2 separate regions of the Homo sapiens genome follow, and region 2 is linked to region 1. Evidence: fine-mapped expression QTL. A gene starts in region 1. The other region holds a variant in brackets. All regions are shown on one strand. Distances are from middle to middle. Region 1 holds the start of TMEM272 (transmembrane protein 272). Region 2 overlaps TMEM272 (transmembrane protein 272).

The links. PIP is the estimated chance that this variant, and not a neighbour inherited with it, causes the effect. A credible set is the group of variants that fine-mapping cannot tell apart.
Region 2: its variant is the best candidate, but not a certain one, in a credible set for the expression of TMEM272 in CD4 T cells (BLUEPRINT, PIP 0.86).

What each region holds. Positions count from the first base shown.
Region 1 is chr13:51,843,368-51,847,762 of GRCh38, reverse strand. It overlaps TMEM272 (transmembrane protein 272), which reads left to right and starts at 2,586. Exons shown (of 5, transcript NM_001351003.2): 1 at 2,586-2,747.
Region 2 is chr13:51,816,281-51,820,675 of GRCh38, reverse strand. It overlaps TMEM272 (transmembrane protein 272), which reads left to right. Exons shown (of 5, transcript NM_001351003.2): 5 at 3,563-4,395. The coding sequence ends at 3,925. Among named protein-coding and RNA genes, the nearest start is that of DHRS12, 14 kb to the right of the region's middle. The variant T/C (reference allele first, on the strand shown) is at 2,651.

The DNA of each region.
Region 1 (4,395 bases):
CCACGTCCAGGCCAGGCTTATGGTCACCGTGTGCTCCCAGACCCCCACCACTTTGGCAGGGAAGCCTTAAGACTCTGACCTCACTGCTCACAGTCACTCTGCTTCCACTCACTCAGTGTGAGATAAGAGAAGATTCAAGTACCGTCATGTATCACTGAACCATGGGTATATGTTCTGAGAAATGTGACATTCGGCAATTTTGCCATTGTGTGAAGGTCATAGAATGTATTCACACAAACTCACATAGTATAGCCTACTACACACCCAGTGGTCCCCAATCTTTTTGGCACCGGAGACCAGTTTCATGAGGGTGGGGATGGGGAAGGTTTTGGCATGAAACCGTTCAACCTCAGATCATCAGGCATTAGATTCTCATAAGGAGTGTGCAACCTAGATTTCTGGCATGCACAGTTCACGAAGGATTTGTGCCCCTGTGAGAATCAAATGCCGTTGCTGATCTGACAGGAAGTGGAGCTCAGGTGGTAATGATTGCTCACCTGCCACTCATCTCCTGCTGTGGGGCCCGGTTCCTAAAAGGCTAGGGACCAGTACTGTTCCCAAAAGGCCAGAGACCATGGCATGTTACTGTATTGAATAATGTAGGCAGTTGTAACACTGTGGTAAGTATTTGTGTATCTAAACGTAGAAAATACTACACATAGTATTTGTGTATCTAAACATTGTGTACAGTAAAAATAGGATATGAAGGATTAAAAAATGGTGCACCTGTATAGGGCATTTACCATGAATGGAGCTTGCAGGACTGGAAGTTGCTCTGGATGAGTCAGTGAGTGAGTGATTAGTGAATGTGAAAGCCTAAGACATTACTACACACTACTATAGCCTTCATAAACACTGTACACTTAGGCTACACTACATTTATTAAAAATATTTTTCTTTAATAATAAAGTAACCTTAGCTTACTGTAACTTTTTTACTTTATAATTTTTTTTAATTTTGACTCATACATTAGCCCATACATTATACATACATTACATTAGCCTAGGCCTACACAGGGTCAGGATCATCAATATCACTATCTTCCATCTCCACATCTTGTCCCACTGGAAGTTCTTCAGGGGCAATAACAGGCAGGAGCTGTCATCTCCTATGATAACAATGCCTTCTTCTGGATACCTCCTGAAAGACCTGCCTGAGGCATTTTTACAGTTAACCTTTTTTTAATATATATAAGTAAAGGAGTACACTCTAAAATAATGATAAAAAGTATAGTATAAATACATAAAGCAGTGACTTCGTTGTTTTTTATTACTGTAAAGTATCATGTGCTGTACATAATTGTATGTACTTTACTTTTATGTGATTGGCAGTGCAGTAGGTTTGTTTACACCAACATCACCACAAACACATCAGTAATGTGTTGCACTACAACATTATGACTGCTATGACATCACTAGGTGATAGGAATTTTTTAGTTCCATTATAATCTTAAGGAACCACCATCTGTGTGGTCCATCATTGACTGAAACATTGTTATGTGGCTCATGACTGTGACTGTATGTCCTTTCCTCTAGCAGGCTCTCCTCCCCTTGCTCCTCTGCTTCACCCTGTCCTGTGGTGTGAAGTGGTCACCTTGGATTCAGGACTGGGAGAGTGGCAGGGCCAGCCCTAGAGTGAGCCCGGAGAGGTGCCCTCCTCCCAGGGGTGTGCAATGCAGGGGTAGCTTCAGAGGGAGCAGCTCCTTGCATTTTACATAATAGGCTCTTCTCTTGCCTCACACCAGTCCCTCCCCCAGTCCCTCCCCAGTAGACTGGCCTTTTCCACCGAAATGACAACAAAAAACCTGGAATGTCAGGGTTGGAGAATGCCTTTAAGTCATGTGACGCCAGTTTCTCTAAGTGTGGTCCATGGAGCACCTACAGGAGACTTAGCAGAGTCTAAACTGCAGATTCCTGGGCCCAGGCCCAGACCTACAGATTGAGAATCTTTGGGAGGTGGTACAGGAATCTGCATTTCAATAAAGAATCTCTGGCACTTCTTATAAATCAGCAGCTGAGAACTTCTACTGCTAGGTGCTTGCTTACAATACAGACACACAACAGCCTCACAAAGCAGCCTGCTTCAGGTCTAAGAAGGCCACTGTTACAAAGTTTATGACATGGGGCACAATTCAGCCTTCTTGTAACTTCATTCTATCTCAGATCTGGCCGTCTGCAATGACTCGGAATCAATTTAATCCCTTTTCTACGTGGCAGTCCTGAAGTCCATAGGGCACCTCTCATTACCTCAGCCCACTTTGAGTACCTTCACACTCTTTCCTAAGCAGCCGCTGTTCGGTCCACCCTTTCTCGTGTGCCACCAACATGCAGGGAGGGCAAGGGGTGAGAAGGGGCTCGCACCAGAACTAAGTCCCTAGGTTTAGTGCCTAAGGGACTGAAATGAAATGTTTCCCGCGGGAATTCCTAACTCCAAGGGGTCGGCCATGTTTCCACAGCTCCCAGGGTCGCTCTGCTGCCCCCCTGCGGGCCTGGGGAACACTGCAGGGGTATGAGCCGGCGGTGGGGCTGCTCTCCCCACACGTGGGAGTGGGAAATGGAGAGAACCCGCCCCTTAGAGGAAAAGCCACGAGTTGCTGTTGTGCTGCAGGAGAGAAAGGGAGAAAGAAAGCGTGCGACAGGGAGTGGGAGCCCCAAGTCAAGAGGAGCCCCACAGAGGCAGCCCTGGACTTCGGGACCACAGAGGTGCTGAGTGCTGCCCGATTCTGGATCCCACTCTGCTTAGCTCAGGTGAGTCCGGCAACCCTGGGCAGCCTGTGAAGTTGGAGAGACAGTCCTAGCAGAGGGTTTCTTGAAATCATTCTTAGGAAGATGCCAATGTGCTGATTATGCTTCCTGGAAAGAAAATGACTACATTGTGGAAGTGCTTTTCTTAATTGTGTGGAGGGAACGAAAACAATCTTCACTGAGTCTAAGGGAGATGGGTTTTCTGGAGAAGAGAACAATCGTAAAGGAATAATTAACTGCAGGGCGAAGGCAAGTTGTGTGGGACTCTTAGAAACAACCTACCGGCTGCAGGACAGCGAGTGGGGACCACAGGCATCACCTCCATGTCTTACCTATTGGGGCTGTGAGCAAGTGGCTTTGACTTGGTCATTTTAAAGGGGTGGTAGAGCTCAAAGGAAGTGCATTTTTCATTTCCTAGGAGCCAAACAATGAAGGCATCCTAGGGAGGTTGTGGAATGACTCTGAGACACAGTAGGTATGCGATAACCTCCACTGAATTCATGCATTCGGGCATGGTTAGGAGAGAAAACAGCACAGGTTACACAGAGAGCTACAGATAAGAAAGGACTGTGTCCTGAGCACCCGAAATGTTTGTTGAAAATATTCAACAATACTAGTTAACATCTGCTTTGAAGGAACAGGTATGGGGATGGTTAATGTCTAATATTCAATGTTATTCAAAACCAAGAGTGAGTTGGTCCTCACAGCTGATTTAGGAATAAATAGTTTAATTTACCAAGCCAATCAGTAAAAACACAATCATATATATATATGTGTGTGTGTCTACACATACACACATATATATACATATATATATGTTTACTGTTGATTCATGACACAACTCAGAGGTTAACAAAAGTAGAATTTTACAAATTTGAACTCTAAAACTGGGAATGTTAGACAGACATAGAAAGTTTCTCAGACCTAGTCCTATTGACATTTTGGAGCAGATAAGTGTTGTTGGGGACTGCCCTGCTCCTTGGAGGATGTTTTTCAGTATCTCTGGTCTCTTTATCGACAGCCCTGCTCCAGCCATGACTATTAAAAATGTCTCCACATATTGCCAAATGTGCCTTGGGGATCAGATCACCTCTGGTTGAGAACCACTGAGATATATCAATTGGACTGAAAATTGAAAATGCATTGAGCATATCATTTGGCAATTATTATTGATTAATTCCCATCGTGCCCTTTATTATCACTCAGCTGCTAGGAGAGGAAGCAGCAGGGGCTATTATCACTGCCCTTCTAGGTGCAGAGGCAGGTGTGAGACACACAGTCCTATCACAGCATGCCCAAGGATAGACTTGTAAGTCACTGTTTGTTCACACTGGAGAGAAGGCACTGCCCGGCCTGTTACCCCAATCTCTTCCTGTTTCAGATTTCTAACAAATAAGAAAACTTTCTATCAAATAAGAAAAAATGTACGTTTTCTTAGTAGAAGATATAGAAGGTATAGAAATTGACTAAAATCTGTGTCATTACAGATTTTAGTCAATCATTTAATGGATTGCATTGACATGAATCCATCATTAGTATGTATTTGCTCTATTGGGCATCTCTTGCTGTTGAGGGACCCTCTTTTGGAAGAGCTGCCGCTTCAAAGGGCTCCAAGGAACGTGCAGTTTTTTGTGAGTTGTTCAAGTCCCCA
Region 2 (4,395 bases), 27 kb after region 1:
TACCTCTGCCTCTCCTGTTCTCACTCATCGTCAAGCTGCCCAGCAGAACTTTCCTTTAGAGATGCTACTGTCCGTGGGGTCTGTTCCTCTTAAAAACAGCAAACTTTTCCTTTCTGAAAGCCAGCCCAGGACCCAAAGGTAATTTATTTTAGTGAACAAACTAAGGCCCTAATAAGCAGCATTGATTTTTTGCCCTGGCAATCTAAAACCGTTTGAAGCCAAATTAAATTTTTGTGCTCATGATGGCAAGGTAATATACAGTGAGTCCATAACCATTAGAGCAGCGGCAAACAGGATTAGAGTCCCCAGAGGCAGAAGTTTGCCTGTGATAATGATGGTTTGTATTCAACCTCAGAACCTGCCTAGGGGGTCCCAACATCCTTCGTGAAATGCATCAGATAGCTTCACAGTATTGCATTCTATGAAGAGAAACTTGAAGAGATGTGAGCTGACATTTCATGGAGCTACCAGAAAGAACTGAGGGTCATGCCCCATTAAAAGATCAGGAAATGAATTAAGTAGGCTGTGTGTGACCTGCTTTTTAAAAAATAAAATAGAAAATTAGAGTGCCTAGTAAGTTAAGTATTGTGTGATACTTACATATGGACATGTGTGTGTTTGGGTGAGTTGACCGTGTAATTTATCATCCTAACTGGGACACTTTTGAGAGTACAAGGGGGCTCTAATAATCATCCTGCCAGAGCAACAGCATAAACCAGGACTTCTCTAAGCCAACAAGGACATGCAGTTACCCAGTGACTAGGACCTGGCATAAAATGTATTTGTTACTGAGGGTCATGTTAAAAGACAGTTTCCAAAAGACGGATTCAGTGACCATTGCCTACCCTGCACTCCCCCTCATCTTCCCACATCACCCTTCCTAGTGGCAATTGCTACCCCTAGTAAGCATGTGCTTTTTGCTGATGCCATGCTGACGGCTCTGCCCTCATTTGGAATTCATTCAGTCCTCACCGTGCCCCTTTGAGGCAGGTACTTGCTTCAGGAAGGATTCTTTGACTACAAGGAACAAAAAATCAACTCTGGCTAACTTAAGAGGTCATTGATTGGAAGAGCTCACAACCTCAAAGGTTAGTGGGAGAGAAGGGGGCCAGGTGGCTCCAGGAAGCCTGGGCAGTGGGACCCACTTGCCACGGCTCTTTCCTTGGGCTGGTTCCTTTCTCCTGGCATCATTGTAGCCAAGAACCAGTCCTGGGAGGGCAGCCAGATCTGGGGACACGTGGTGGGTGGGGGAATTCCTCCAAGGAATGGGGCCCTGCAAGGAAGGGAAATGCATCTGAGTGATGGAAACTTGAGCTGGACTCTCAGTTCCAGCTTACAGTGAGGAAACAGCGAGCTGGTGTTCAGCCTGGGCTTTCCCAACCACACAGCCACCGTCAGCCAACCTACTACAGGCAATTGGTTTTTCCCCTACCCTAAACCCACCACCCTTCACCTTTGCCACACCACTCCCCCTCAGAGGAGGACCCTCGCACCTCTCCTTGTGCATAGGGGTCCCAAGTATGCCCCTTCTTCCAGGCAGCCCTCCCTGGATGAGTCAGCTCTACTGTGGGTGGCTCTCTGAACTCCCCCAAGGCCTCACTTTCCTTTTCTTATGGAGATGTTCTGCCTCCCAGCCGGGCTGCAAGTCTTAGGCGAGAACCCTCCAATTTAATTTCCTCCGATTTAATCATCAGTGTACTGTGGTGTAGACAGTGGTCAAAGAGGTGTGGACCACTGCCCTTCTCATTCTCTTACTCACTGTGGATCTCAGTGAAGTGACTTAACTTCTCTGAGCCTTAGTTTCCTCATTTGGGCAACAGAGATAATACGCGGCCCCAGGCTAGGATGGACATTAAAGATCACACATACCAAGCATTAAACTAACCACTCTCCTTAGGTTTTGTATCTTTACATAAGTAATAACTCTCCATTTTGGAAAATCAGAGAATGCAGATAAGCACAAAGAAGAAAATCAAAATCATCTGTAAATTTCACCACCCAGAGAAAATTGCTGTTGACATTTTGGCCCAATGGCTCCAGTTTTGGTCCTGCGCCCATGTTTATTTAGTACCTCTAGCCTCAGGCTGGGAGAATTCATTGAGATAATGTATGTCAAGCGCTTTGCCCAGCACCAGGGTCTATTTTTGTACAACATCCATTCCCAGAGTCACTATCACCTCCTCACGGGTAACCCCCAGATCTCTGCCAGGAGTCCTCACCTCTCTCTGTTCACCTCCAGGCTCTGACTCTGCCCCCTGTGGGCCACTAGACCCTGCATTTCCATCCAAAATTTTAAATGGAACAAGTCCAAATCTGGAGTTATCACCTACCCAAGGCACAGCTTGGGGTTCGCTGTTCCCATCTCTCTGTCTCTCTTTATTTTATCCTTGCTTCTCTTTACAGTTTGGAGCCCAGTTAGCTGCATCTCTTGGCTCCTGCTTGCCCTTCCATTTCACTCAAGCTCAGCATCTCTCCCCGCCTCTGCCAGTCGGCCACATCCTCCGTCATCCAAGGATTCTTTCTAATGCCCTGCTCTCCAGGGTTAGGGGTGCCATGAGTGTGGCCTCGGGAGAGATGGGTAGCCTAGGAAGCCAGAGAGAGCAGATACACAGGTCAGGCTTTCAAAAACATCACAGATCAAGTTGCTAGG[T/C]AGAGAAGACGGGGAGCTGTTAAGGCATTCCTTAGCAAAGACCACCTGTGTCCTTCCACCGCTGCATTTCCAGGGGGAAAGTGTGCTCCCCTGTGACAAAGGCATTTGTGGCCAGTTAGAGTCGGGTGGGTCGTGGTGCTTTGTGTAACCAAGTGGCAGCAGAATTTCGAAGGCGTGTCAGGCTGGAGTCAGGGACCATCTACCAGGGGCCCAGATGGTCTGTCCCCCAAGAGTATCACTCCCAGGACAAGGGTCTGTGCTCTTGACTTGAAAGATGTACGAGGACTGAGAGGGACTCTCAGTCCACAGCCCCACTTGGGAATTCCAGATGCCTGAGATGGGCAGTGGTACAAACTTCCAAGAAGAGAGAAAGCAGGCTGGGCGGGGCTGGGGTGGGGAGGAAACGGCTCACGGTACCTGGATTCGGCCAAGCCTGTTACATGGCCTGGAAGTACCAGGGAAAAGTCTGCTAGGGGTTCCTCCCAAGACAGAGGGATATATTTCAAGGTCCTCTAGCATGCGGACCAGGTGTCATTTTTACATTATGTGTGGGTGCAAATGTGCTAGCACAATACAGGAGAGAGTCAGTCTGAACCTTGATGCAGAGATGGGTTACCCCAGCCAATCCCTTGTCCAAACCAACTCACACATCTAAAAGGAAAACACCACTGAGGATGCTGGCGATGAATTTATGCCTTCATTCTTGCCAGTTTTAATTCTTATTCTTCAAATTAAATTTCGTTGCTTGATGGCATTTGTAACTCCAGTGTGTTGTTCACTTTTCATAACACCTTCCTCTCTCTCCTCTTTCTCTCTCCCTGCCAACACCCCACCACCGCTACCTTCTATCCCCTCTCTTCCCGTCTATTTTGCTGCTCTGCCTTGCCACCCTGGCTCCCCACCACGCCCCAGGTGTCTCTCCTGTTGTACGACTCCACCAGGATGAGGCGGCTGCTGTCCAAGGCCGTGGTGATTGATGACGATGACGATGACGAATACCCCTGGAGGCAGAATGCGCACAGATACTACATCCACCTCCTGCTGAGCCTCTTCCTCTTCCTCTGGTTCATCCTGGGAAACTACTGGGTCTTTTCTGTGTACCTGCCTGATTTTCTTCCCCCTTTCCAGCAGCCTCAGGACTACTGTGACAAAACCCTGTACCTCTTTGCAGTCGGAGTCCTGGCGCTCAGTCACACTGTGCTGGTCTTGCTCCTGCTGTGCAGCGGCTGTGTCTACCTGTGCTCCAGGTGGAGACTTGCTGCCGATGAAGACTGACAGCTGCCTTGTCCAGCATACCATGTATGCATATGCGTGTGCATGCACGCGCGTGCACACAGACACACAGACGCACACACACACACACACACACACAGGTTCAGAGAAGGGCATAAAGGTAATAAAACCTTCCCTGAAGGCATTTAAAAAGCCACCCAAAGGCACTGAATATAATAGCAGACTAAAGAAACTCTTGCCTTCCTAGACATGGGGAAATCACTTCTGCTCTTTTCAGAGTGGGAATTTTGTTCTCACAAGAGTTTTCAAAGGGATAATTGTTTTTGAGGGTATGAAGTGTGGGAGGCAAAGAATGGGAGACCTTTTCAAATCATAGTGCAATTTCAATGACTGGTGCAAGAGCAAGGTTGGTTGTTGCTACTGCTGCTGTCATTCAGCCATGGTCACCTTGAAGTTATAGAAAGTGCACAGACTTTCACACAAGATATATCTTAACTTCACTCGCTATGATG